Linked DNA regions of Homo sapiens. The protein of the gene in region 2 purifies or fractionates together with the protein of the main gene of each other region. This does not show direct contact. Each region holds a gene or a part of one and is shown on either strand. Other genes may lie near its edges.

Region 1 (2,558 bases), on a different chromosome or scaffold from region 2:
ATTTATAAAATGAATATTATAACATTATAGAAATTTTACATAAAGAAAAAAGTTCCTTAGAGCTCCAGCTTCATTTTTCTTTCTCTCTCGTTTTTTTCATACATACACAAACATAGCAAAAAGTCACAGTATAACAACGATTCTGTATTTGAGCACATATATTTTAACCAACAATCAGAGCCCACGGAAGAGCTCATGGACATTTTCTAATCCAGTATTACAAATAAACGATTTTATTTATCTTTTTGAGACAGAGTTTCACTCTGTCACCCACGCTGGAATGCAGTGGTGTGATCTCGGCTCACTGCAACCTCCACCCCCTGGGGTTCAGGTGATTCTCCTGCCTCAACCTCCCAAGTAGCTGGGATTACAGGCACGTGCCACCACACCTGGGTAATTTTTGTATTTTTAGTAGAGATGGGGTTTCGCCATATTGGCCAGGCTGGTCTCAAACTCCTGACCTCAAGTGATCTGCCCGCCTCAGCCTCTCAAAGTGCTAGGATCACAGGAATGAACCACCATGTGCAGCATAAACTACTTTAGAATGTGCCTCTAGCTGAATGGGGGAGAAGATTGAAAAGAAAATAAAAAAAAAATTAATCTGACTATTCAGTTGGGTCACTGCACTAGGAAAAAGTAGGATGGTATAGTCCAATAGAAAGAGGTAAGCAGATTCCAACATTCTATGGGATAACATCTTTTAGATAGCCTAGAATGGTACTGCATATTGAATAACAAAAATGTGCTAGAGGAAATACAGGAAGGCCAGGAACCTACTCTACCATTCCATCAGATTTCTGAATTTCCTAGTCAAATTTTACCTTTTCTGGAGTCAGGCATTTCATATTGGTTGACTTTAATATGTGCTGTAAGTAGTCATTTAAATCAACCATGTTGGTGTTAACTGTCACCTGTAGAGAGGAAAAAAAAGTCAAGGAGATCATAAATCTTACTATGAGAAAGCTGTGAATCACCAGTATGTCATATTAAAAACTTGTTCCAACTGTTTAGGTTGGAAAGAGTAGACACCAAGAAACTAAATAACATCTATAAAATCCAACAAGCTGTAGGTTGGTATCAGTACTTCCCAATAGAGATAACTTCACAGAGATTCAATATGAAGCATATAGAATATTTCTTTTTTTTTTTGAGACAGGGTCTCACTCTGTCACCCAGGCTAGAGTGCAGTGCGTCATTTCAGCTCACTGCAGCCTCAACCTCCCATGTTCAAGTGATCCTCCCACCTCAGTCTCCGGAGTAGCTGGGACTACCACACCGGGCTAATTTTTGTATTTTTTGTAGAGATGGAGTTTCACCATTTTGCTCAGGCTGGTCTAGAACTCCTGAGCACGAGCAATCTGCCTGCCTCAGCCTCCCAAAGTGCTGGGATTACAGGCACGAGCTACCGTGCCCAGCCTCATATAGAATATTTCTAATAAAAGTCAAGGCTCAAAGGGACAAAGTTCCTCAACAGACCATGAACTTTGTAAAGCCTTTTTCGGGCACTAGATTAAATGGTAAGCTCTTGGTCATACATAGAAGGGATGGAATATTACCTATAATGTCTAAACCTATCAGATTGGCTATAGAACTGCTACTCTAATCAATTTATAACAGCAAATTACCAAACTACTTACATGATTTTTAGTTAAGGCTAATTTGCAAGAACAGATACTGAAAGACTATTTGCTTTTCATGTTAAACACTTTTTAGCGAGATTAATTTTATTAGCAGACTCCTCAACAGCAGGCAAAAGGAAGAAAGATAAAGGAATATGAGAAAATCTCCCAAGGACTAACTTTGTTTTCCCATTCAAATTCGGCCCACATCTGACGGAATTCTGCATCAGTGCAAGTTGCAGGCTGGATATAGTCCATGATGTCGATGTGAATATCACTGAGAACCACACAATTTCTGTCACTTGCTGCTCCAGAGACATCATAAACTGCAATTACATATACAAAAAGATTCGCAATCACTGGGGCAAACTTGAATTTAAAAAATCTTAATATCCAAATATCCAAAGAACTACACTATTAACAATAAGATTGTTTATATAATACTTATTATGTACAGAGCTCTATTCTACATGCTTTATAAATATTACTGGTTTAATACTCCCATCAATTCTGATAGTATTATTATTTTCCATCTTACATATGAGGAAATGAAAGCAGAGAAGTTAAGTAAGTTGTTCCAGATCACACAACTGATAAGTGGTGGGGATAGGATTCGAACTCAGGCACACTTTGTTTTTTGTGGTTAAACAAATAATTCAATTCAGTGAGTACTTACATAGCAGTTGCAGCATACTAGGCACTGCAGCAGATATACAAGTGGACGATGTTCCCATAGGAGGTACTTAACTAATACTTTTGAATAAATATTGCTGACCCATACTACTTAATGATACAAGATTAGTCATCCCTCAGTATTAATGGGGAATTGCTTCCAGGACCCCCTATGGATACCAAAATCTACAGATGCTCAAGTCCCTGATATTAAATGGCATAGTATTTGCATTACCTATACACATCTTCTCATATATTTTAAATCAT
Region 2 (3,658 bases):
CTTAGTCTTTCCCACCCTACAGTAGTTGTTCCCTTCCCTTCCGCCCTTCCCTTGCTTCTACTTGCTTCCTGAGACCTGCTATTAAAAAAAAAAAAAAAATCGGCCAGGCGCGGTGGCTCACACCTGTAATCCAGCACTTTGGGAGGCCAAGGCGGGTGGATCGCGAGGTCAGAAGATCGAGACAATCCTGCCTAACACGGTGAAACCCCATCTCTACTAAAAATACAAAAACAAAATTAGCCGGGCGTGGTGGTGGGTGCCTGTAGTCCCAGCTACTCGGGAGGCTAAGGCAGGAGAATAGCATGAATCTGGGAGGCAGAGCTTGCAGTGAGCCGAGATCGCAGCCACTGCGCTCCAGCCTGGGCCACAGAGCGAGACTCCGTCTCAAAAAAAACAAAAAACAAAAAATCAACTATTCTGCCTTACATAAAACTTTCCTAATTTCAGGTATTCATATTTATTCCTGACAATATCACCCTAGAACTAGTCTATGTAATACACTGAAATCATTATTGTACATGTTTATGTAATAAAAGGTCTTATTAGAGCTAGTCCTCAAATAACATCATTTCATTCAACATCATTGTGTTATAACTTTGATGAGAACAAAATTGATTCCTGGCCACGGCTACCATCTGTGCAGAGTTTACATGTTCTCCCCATGTCTTTGTGGGTTTTCACCAGGTACTCAGGTTTTCTCTCACATCCCAAAATGCGCATGTCAGGTTAACTGGTGTGTGTAAATTATCCCAGCATGAATGAGTGCAGGTATGTGTGCCCTGCAACAGAATGACATCCTGTTCTAGGTTGGTTCTGGCCTTTTGCCCTGACCTGCCAGGATAGGCTCTAGCCACCAATGACCCTTAACTGGAATAAGCGGTTGAAAAACGAATGAATGAATGAATGAATGACTTAATAAAAATGATTGTCAAAAATTCATAAACTATAGTCATACAAATGTATAACAATCAACAATGTAGTATGAAAGTGTTTAATGAATGTGCCACATTTTTGTTTTTGAACCTCATGGTAGTAGGAGGTACTCTATAGTTTTCACTTTGCAAATAATCCTTGATTTAACCCACTACCACTACAACTGCCATCACTCATTGATTTACCAAAAATTGGGTAAATAATTATCTTGCTCGCTTTCATTCATCTTTCTTAAATATACATACAGTTTACATTTATTTTAACGTTTAATATTAGAAGAGTTTTCAGTCTTTATTTAGAAGCTTGGTGATGGTTTTGTGACCAAAAATATGCCAGAGGAACTTAACTCTTGTTTATATCAATTAGCCCATGGCAAAACTGGTTTCATTACACACTGTTTCCCTTAAGTCCAAGTTTCCAAGAACCTATTGAAAATGTTAAGTGGGCCAGGCGCGGTGGCTTATGCCTATAATCCCAGCACTTTCGGAGGCCAAAGCGGGTGATCACGAGGTCAGAAGATCGAGACTATCCTGGCTAACACGGTGAAACCCCGTCTCTACTAAAAATACAAAAAATTAGCCGGGCATGGTGGTGGGCGCCTCTAGTCCCAGCTACTCGGGAGGCTGAGGCAGGAGAACGGCGTGAACCCGGGAGGTGGGGCTTGCAGTGAGCCGAGATCATGCCACTGCACTCCAGCCTGGGCGACAGAGCGAGACTCCATCTCAAAAAAAAAGAAAATGTTAAGTGAAGGCCGGGCACAATGGCTCATGTCTGTAATCCCAGCACTTTGGGCAGCCAAGGTGGGAGGATCACTTGAGCCCAGGGGTTTAAGACCAGCCTGGGCAACATGATGAAACCCTGTCTCTACAAAAACTATAAAAATTTTTGTAGTGGCACACGCCTGTAGTCCCAGCTACTCAGGAGGCTGAAGCAGGAGACTGCCTGAGCCTGGGAGTTTGAGGCTGCAGTGAGCCATGACTGCGCCATAGCACTCTAGCCTGGGCAACAAAGCGAGACCCTGTTTCAAAAAAAAAAAAAAAAAAAAAAAAAAGGAAAATGTTAAGTGAGGACTTACTCTACTAGGTCTATTTCATTGATTATAGTTATAGATTAGGGCCCTTAAACAGAAAAATGTATTAGAGCTTAATATTAAAAACTAAACATTTGTGCTAAATCTTGGTAAATTTAATGAAGGAAGTCTTTAAACAGCTAAGTAATCTGTGGTAGCTGAGCTATCAATTAAAAAAAAAAGAAAAACATGCTTTTTAGTTAATTAACACAGATGTGTTTACCTTCTTTCCTTGGCTGACAAATGTCTCCGGCTCTGTGATTTACTGTCACTCTATTAAAACAAAAAAACAGGCAAATGCAAATATCACTATTAACTTTTTTGAAAAGTAGAAAATTATTCACTGAGAATCGGATGTTCTTCATAAAACTGAAAATAGCTTACAGAATTAGAAGATTCCTCTTTTGAAGCCAATTTCTGGATGGACCTATGAAAATAAACACAAGGGAGTCTCTACTAGCCTGTAAAAGACATGCATTTACAAAGTCCCAAAACATTCCCATATCATACTCTTAAGTACTGGCAATCCAACAAATTTTCAAATTTGGTGAAGTGAGAAAAACATACAACCAAATTGCTCCTCTCTCCACACTTCCATATACATTTTTAAATAGGTGACGTGTATTGAAAACTTACTGTGTGTCAGGCACTGCCAGATGGTATACACGCATGAAACCTTCACCAAATCCCTATGAAAGGGATACCATTCTGTTTTCACCAAGAAGGAAACTGAAGCTTAAGCACAAAGTAATTTTCCCAAGGACGCACCCTAAGACCCAATACTGGTCTGTCTGACTCCTAGACTGTTCTGAATTACCCCTAAGTTAATTATGCATTTATAACTATGGACTATTCACCTGATGATCTGCAAAACATTATATAGACTAAAACACATTTCTTTGATGGAATTGCCTTTGTTATGTTTTTAGCATTTATAACCATTTACTTGTTTCTATTTGGATCTAGTTTGGCCACTCTATATGCACTGTATTTTTCTACCCTGGTCCTGGGAATTTCTTTGCAGAGAGACCCAATCAAATGTTGAAAAAGTATTAAGACAATGGAGTGTAAAAGTACTGATGTCAATCTTGGTATTATCTTTGTAAGGATTACCTCATCATCATTCTCAGCTTACACAATAATATGTAAAATTTTATTTTTTAATTACCTTTGGGGTTGAAGGTGAGACAAGTCAATGGTAGTATCAGGATAATTTAATGTCTCTTCCCCTTCATCCTTCATTTCACCAACAGAATCCTGATCTTTTCTAACCTCTTCATATTCTCCTTCGTCTTCAGAGCTTTCTTCCTGAATGAGCTCCTCATTTAGTTCATCTCTGCCACTCTGAAGAGTGATATCCTCTTGGTCAACCTGAGTCATGAGTTCTACTTCCACAGGAGTTTCATGTTCTTCTTTATCCTCATCACTGCTCGTGTCACCTCCATCTGTAGAATTATCATAAGGAAAGTCAGTGTGGGACTACCAACCAAGCCAGGTGATTTCCTAAAAATGTCATAAAAATATTCCACTGTTTCTCCCATATTTCTCCAAAAAATCAACAGAAAAGTGTCTGATCATTCCCAAAGGGTACTCTTAGACAAAAGAATAACCTGTATCATGAATAGGTTGAACTAAATGATCTCCAAGATCCTTTAC
Region 3 (3,658 bases), on a different chromosome or scaffold from region 2:
TATATTACAAAGGTCCTAGGGACATGGGAAAAAAGTATGGAAGAAAAACAGGGTACTTCTCTTTATCAGACAGGCTCAACCTATCTTGCCTTTCTGTCCCCTAAAATGACTTCAGTCTTCAAATAACACTAAAAAAAACTTACTCCAAAGAGGTGTTGAAAGATAAAAACTGGGCCGGGCGCGGTGGCTCACGCCTGTAATCACAGCACTTTGGGAGGCCGAGACAGGAGCATCACAAGGTCAGGAGATCAAGACCATCCTGGCTAACACGGTGAAACCCCGTCTCTACTAAAAATACAAAAAATTAGCCAGGCGTGGTAGTGGGCGCCTGTAGTCCCAGCTACTCGGGAGGCTGAGGCAGGAGAATGGCTTGAACCCAGGAGGCGGAGCTTGCAGTGAGCCAAGATTGCGCCACTGCGCTCCAACCTGGGTGAGAGAGGGAGACTCCGTCTCAAAAAAAAAAAAAAAGAAAGATAAAAACTGTAACCATTTTGCTTCCATACGAGTATGGTTTCCCAAATACGTTCAAAAACTTGATTGTATGAAAGCTCTGGAAACCAGAAATTTGGATTAGCTAAATAGAAAAATATTTTTAATAGCTCTGCTCAATATCACATTTCTGTAATAAACAGCTACTATTTACGAATTGCCTACTATGAAACAGGCATATTATAGTAGGTGCTCTATGTTATCATAACATTTAATTCTCATAACAATGAGTGGGGTAGCTATTATACCCACTTGCAGCAGAGGAAACTGAGGCTCAGGGAGATTAACTTCCCCAAACCACAAGACTGATAAGCGGAAGAGCTGTGTGTCAAACCCAGATCTGACACCAAAACCCTCTTCCCACCACATAACACCATCTACCTATTTAGTAGGCACTGTTTGTTCATCTTGATTACCTCAACTCAACTCTGCAAAGCCACCTAATATAGCTGAAAGAAATGATGAAGGGAATGCATATAAGTCATTTAATATGCGCACAGAATCTTACTGTTAGCAAAGCAGACATTTTTATTTCACTTTTTTAGTGACGGGGTCTCACTCTGTCTCCCGGGCTGGAGTGCAGTGGCACAATCATGGCTCACTGTAGTGAGGCCTCCTGGGCTCAACTGATGCTCCCGCCTCAGCCTCCCAGTTAGCTGGGACTACAGATCCATGCCACCACCATGCCCAGATAAATAGACATTTTTGACAATAGCTTTGTGGATTAAGACAGCTTGAAAAAAAAAACAAATTTTGTGGAAGTATGTCTCTATCATTCAGAAAATTAGGGAAAAACCTACCAGTTCTTCCCCCCGAACAATAATATTCTCTAATTTTACAGCCACTTTTTCATACTGTCTAATTTGATAGTTATTCAGAGCCATACACTGTATGCAGGCAAGATACTGATATCTCTTTCACCTATCCAGAAATTGGAGCACAGAAAGAAAACACTGACACACTTCTTGTCTTCTTACTCCCAACCCAGGCCTTCTCTACTGTCTCATGCCTGGACGCCCGTCATTACCTCTGCCTCCTCATGGTGCTCAATGAGGGCTTGTGGGGGAAGGTTACGTAAGTTGCAAAGCTTGGATTTCACCATGATGGGAACATAGCCAAGAAACTGCTTAATGATTCCTTTTGAGATTCCATTCACTGCCCAGTTGATATCAGCCTAAATGAAAACAAGAGAAAAAGTTACTTAACAGAAATATCTGCATTTACGAGAACAAATGAGTATTTTCAAAGACTGAGGAAGAAGATCAATTAAATTATTTTATGCCTTAGATTTAGAAGGTGGGATCTCTTAGACAATAGCACCAAGAAAGCAATTTCTGGCATAAACTTTATTAGGCACCCGCCCTACTCCCAAATATGTGCAGTGTTGAGAGTCACACAGTATCACTAGTACTCACTGTCAACTTCCCACGGTAGGTACTCCTTCGGCCCCGGCATTCTGCTGGATAAACATTGGCCTCTTTGCAGATGGTCCCTTTTGGAACTGTAGGTGGACTGATAACAGCATCCAGAATAGTAAAAGAGATACGCTCATCTTTGAAAGCAAATTCAAAGGGAGGTATAGCCTGAAATGCAATTCACACTATTAAATTGCTTGCATTTCCAAGGCATTTTTTCTCTAAGACTCTTCCAAATCTTATGTGTTCTACAAACATTGATGCCTGTGATGCCACCATGACACACCTAAAAAGGACAGTTAAGGCTACCTCCAGTTGGCCGGGCGCAGTGGTTCACGCCTGTAATCTCAGCACTTTGGGAGGCCGAGGTGGGAGGATCACAAGGTCAGGAGATCGAGACCATCCTGGCTAACACGGTGAAACCCCATCTCTACTAAAAATACAAAAAAAATTAGCCAGGCGTGGTGGTGGGCGCCTGTAGTCCCAGCTACTCGGGAGGCTGAGGCAGGAGAATGGCGTGAACCCGGGAGGCAGAGCCTGCAGTGAGCAGAGATCACGCCACTGCACTCCAGCCTGGGCGACAGAGCGAGACTCCGTCTCAAAAAAAAAAAAAAAAAAAAAAAAAAAAAAAAAAAGCTACCTCCAGTCTACTCATAACTTCACTAAATACTTAAAACCACAAAGCATTATTAGTACAAGATTGTTTTGAGTGACCACATGTGTCAGAGACTGTAGTAGGCTCTAGGGATACAGCTGTGAACAGAACAAAATTCCTGTTCTCTGAACCAAGAGCCTTGTGTATTCTTAACTTGTCTATGTGCATAGCAAGACAAATGGGACTACTGCTAATAGAGCAAGGATACGGAAACATCCTTTAGGATTTAAGACTAGATGCTTAATGTACAATGGCAACGTCAAACTGAAGCCAGAGCCATGCAAAGGAAAAGATGGTGGCCAGGCTGGGTTTCCCCTTCCACAGAAGTTACTTCTTTGTACCATTCTGTAGGGGAAGCTTTGCTGTTCTGAGGAAGGGGCATCACCAAGCTCTCCTATATATTAATTACAAGCAACCTCCTAGACTTAGTCTTAGAATAATGAAAATGAAAAAATGGAACCAAGAAAGAATACCAAGGAGGTTCTCCACCTTCACGTGAGTTAACTTACCTTTTCTAAATTTTAAAATGTTATCTAAAGCTGGTATTATTTTAGAAATTCATATTTTATTTAAAAATAAAAGCCAGATGCAGTGGCTTATACCTGTAATCCCAATATTTGGGAGACCGAGAGAGGAGGACTACTTGAGCTCAGGAGTTTGAGACCAGGCTGGGCCACATAGGGAGACCCCGTCTCTACAAAAAATAAAAATAAAAAAATTAGCCGGGCATAGTGGTGCACGCCTGTGGTCCCAGCTACTCAAGAGGTTGACGTGGGAGGATCACTTGATCCTGGAAGGTCGAGGCTGCAGTGAGCTATAACCATGCCACTGCATTCCAGCCTAGGTGACAAAGTGAGATCCTGTCTCAAAAAAAAAAACAGAATGAAGTTAAAAAAAGAGAGATTAGACAATTTGCTTTCTCAAGACGCAGCTGCACTATTTAGAAGGAAATACAGTGAACTGTCATTATTCATAATAGTTATGTTCTATACAGTTGCCATAAACACTGAATTAGCCAATACTGAACCACTGCTCCTAGGGTAAATACATGGTTAGCTTCCTGCGAGCCTCTGGTCACATTTCATCAACTGATCAACAC

Evidence for each region.
Region 1: the proteins of NEMF (region 2) and COPB1 fractionate together in Homo sapiens (co-fractionation; one large-scale study listed by BioGRID). This does not show direct contact.
Region 3: the proteins of NEMF (region 2) and POLR1B fractionate together in Homo sapiens (co-fractionation; one large-scale study listed by BioGRID). This does not show direct contact.

Annotation. Positions count from the first base shown.
Region 1 is NC_000011.10:14,459,387-14,461,944, forward strand, and holds part of COPB1 (coatomer subunit beta), read right to left. Parts: intron 1,946-2,558; coding exon 1,800-1,945; intron 912-1,799; coding exon 822-911; intron 1-821. UniProt on the Homo sapiens protein: The coatomer is a cytosolic protein complex that binds to dilysine motifs and reversibly associates with Golgi non-clathrin-coated vesicles, which further mediate biosynthetic protein transport from the ER, via the Golgi up to the trans Golgi network.
Region 2 is NC_000014.9:49,797,250-49,800,907, forward strand, and holds part of NEMF (ribosome quality control complex subunit NEMF), read right to left. Parts: intron 3,448-3,658; coding exon 3,171-3,447; intron 2,430-3,170; coding exon 2,387-2,429; intron 2,276-2,386; coding exon 2,226-2,275; intron 1-2,225. UniProt on the Homo sapiens protein: Key component of the ribosome quality control complex (RQC), a ribosome-associated complex that mediates the extraction of incompletely synthesized nascent chains from stalled ribosomes as well as their ubiquitin-mediated proteasomal degradation.
Region 3 is NC_000002.12:112,545,426-112,549,083, reverse strand, and holds part of POLR1B (DNA-directed RNA polymerase I subunit RPA2), read right to left. Parts: intron 3,420-3,658; exon of another isoform or gene 3,162-3,419; intron 2,073-3,161; coding exon 1,905-2,072; intron 1,664-1,904; coding exon 1,517-1,663; intron 1-1,516. UniProt on the Homo sapiens protein: Catalytic core component of RNA polymerase I (Pol I), a DNA-dependent RNA polymerase which synthesizes ribosomal RNA precursors using the four ribonucleoside triphosphates as substrates.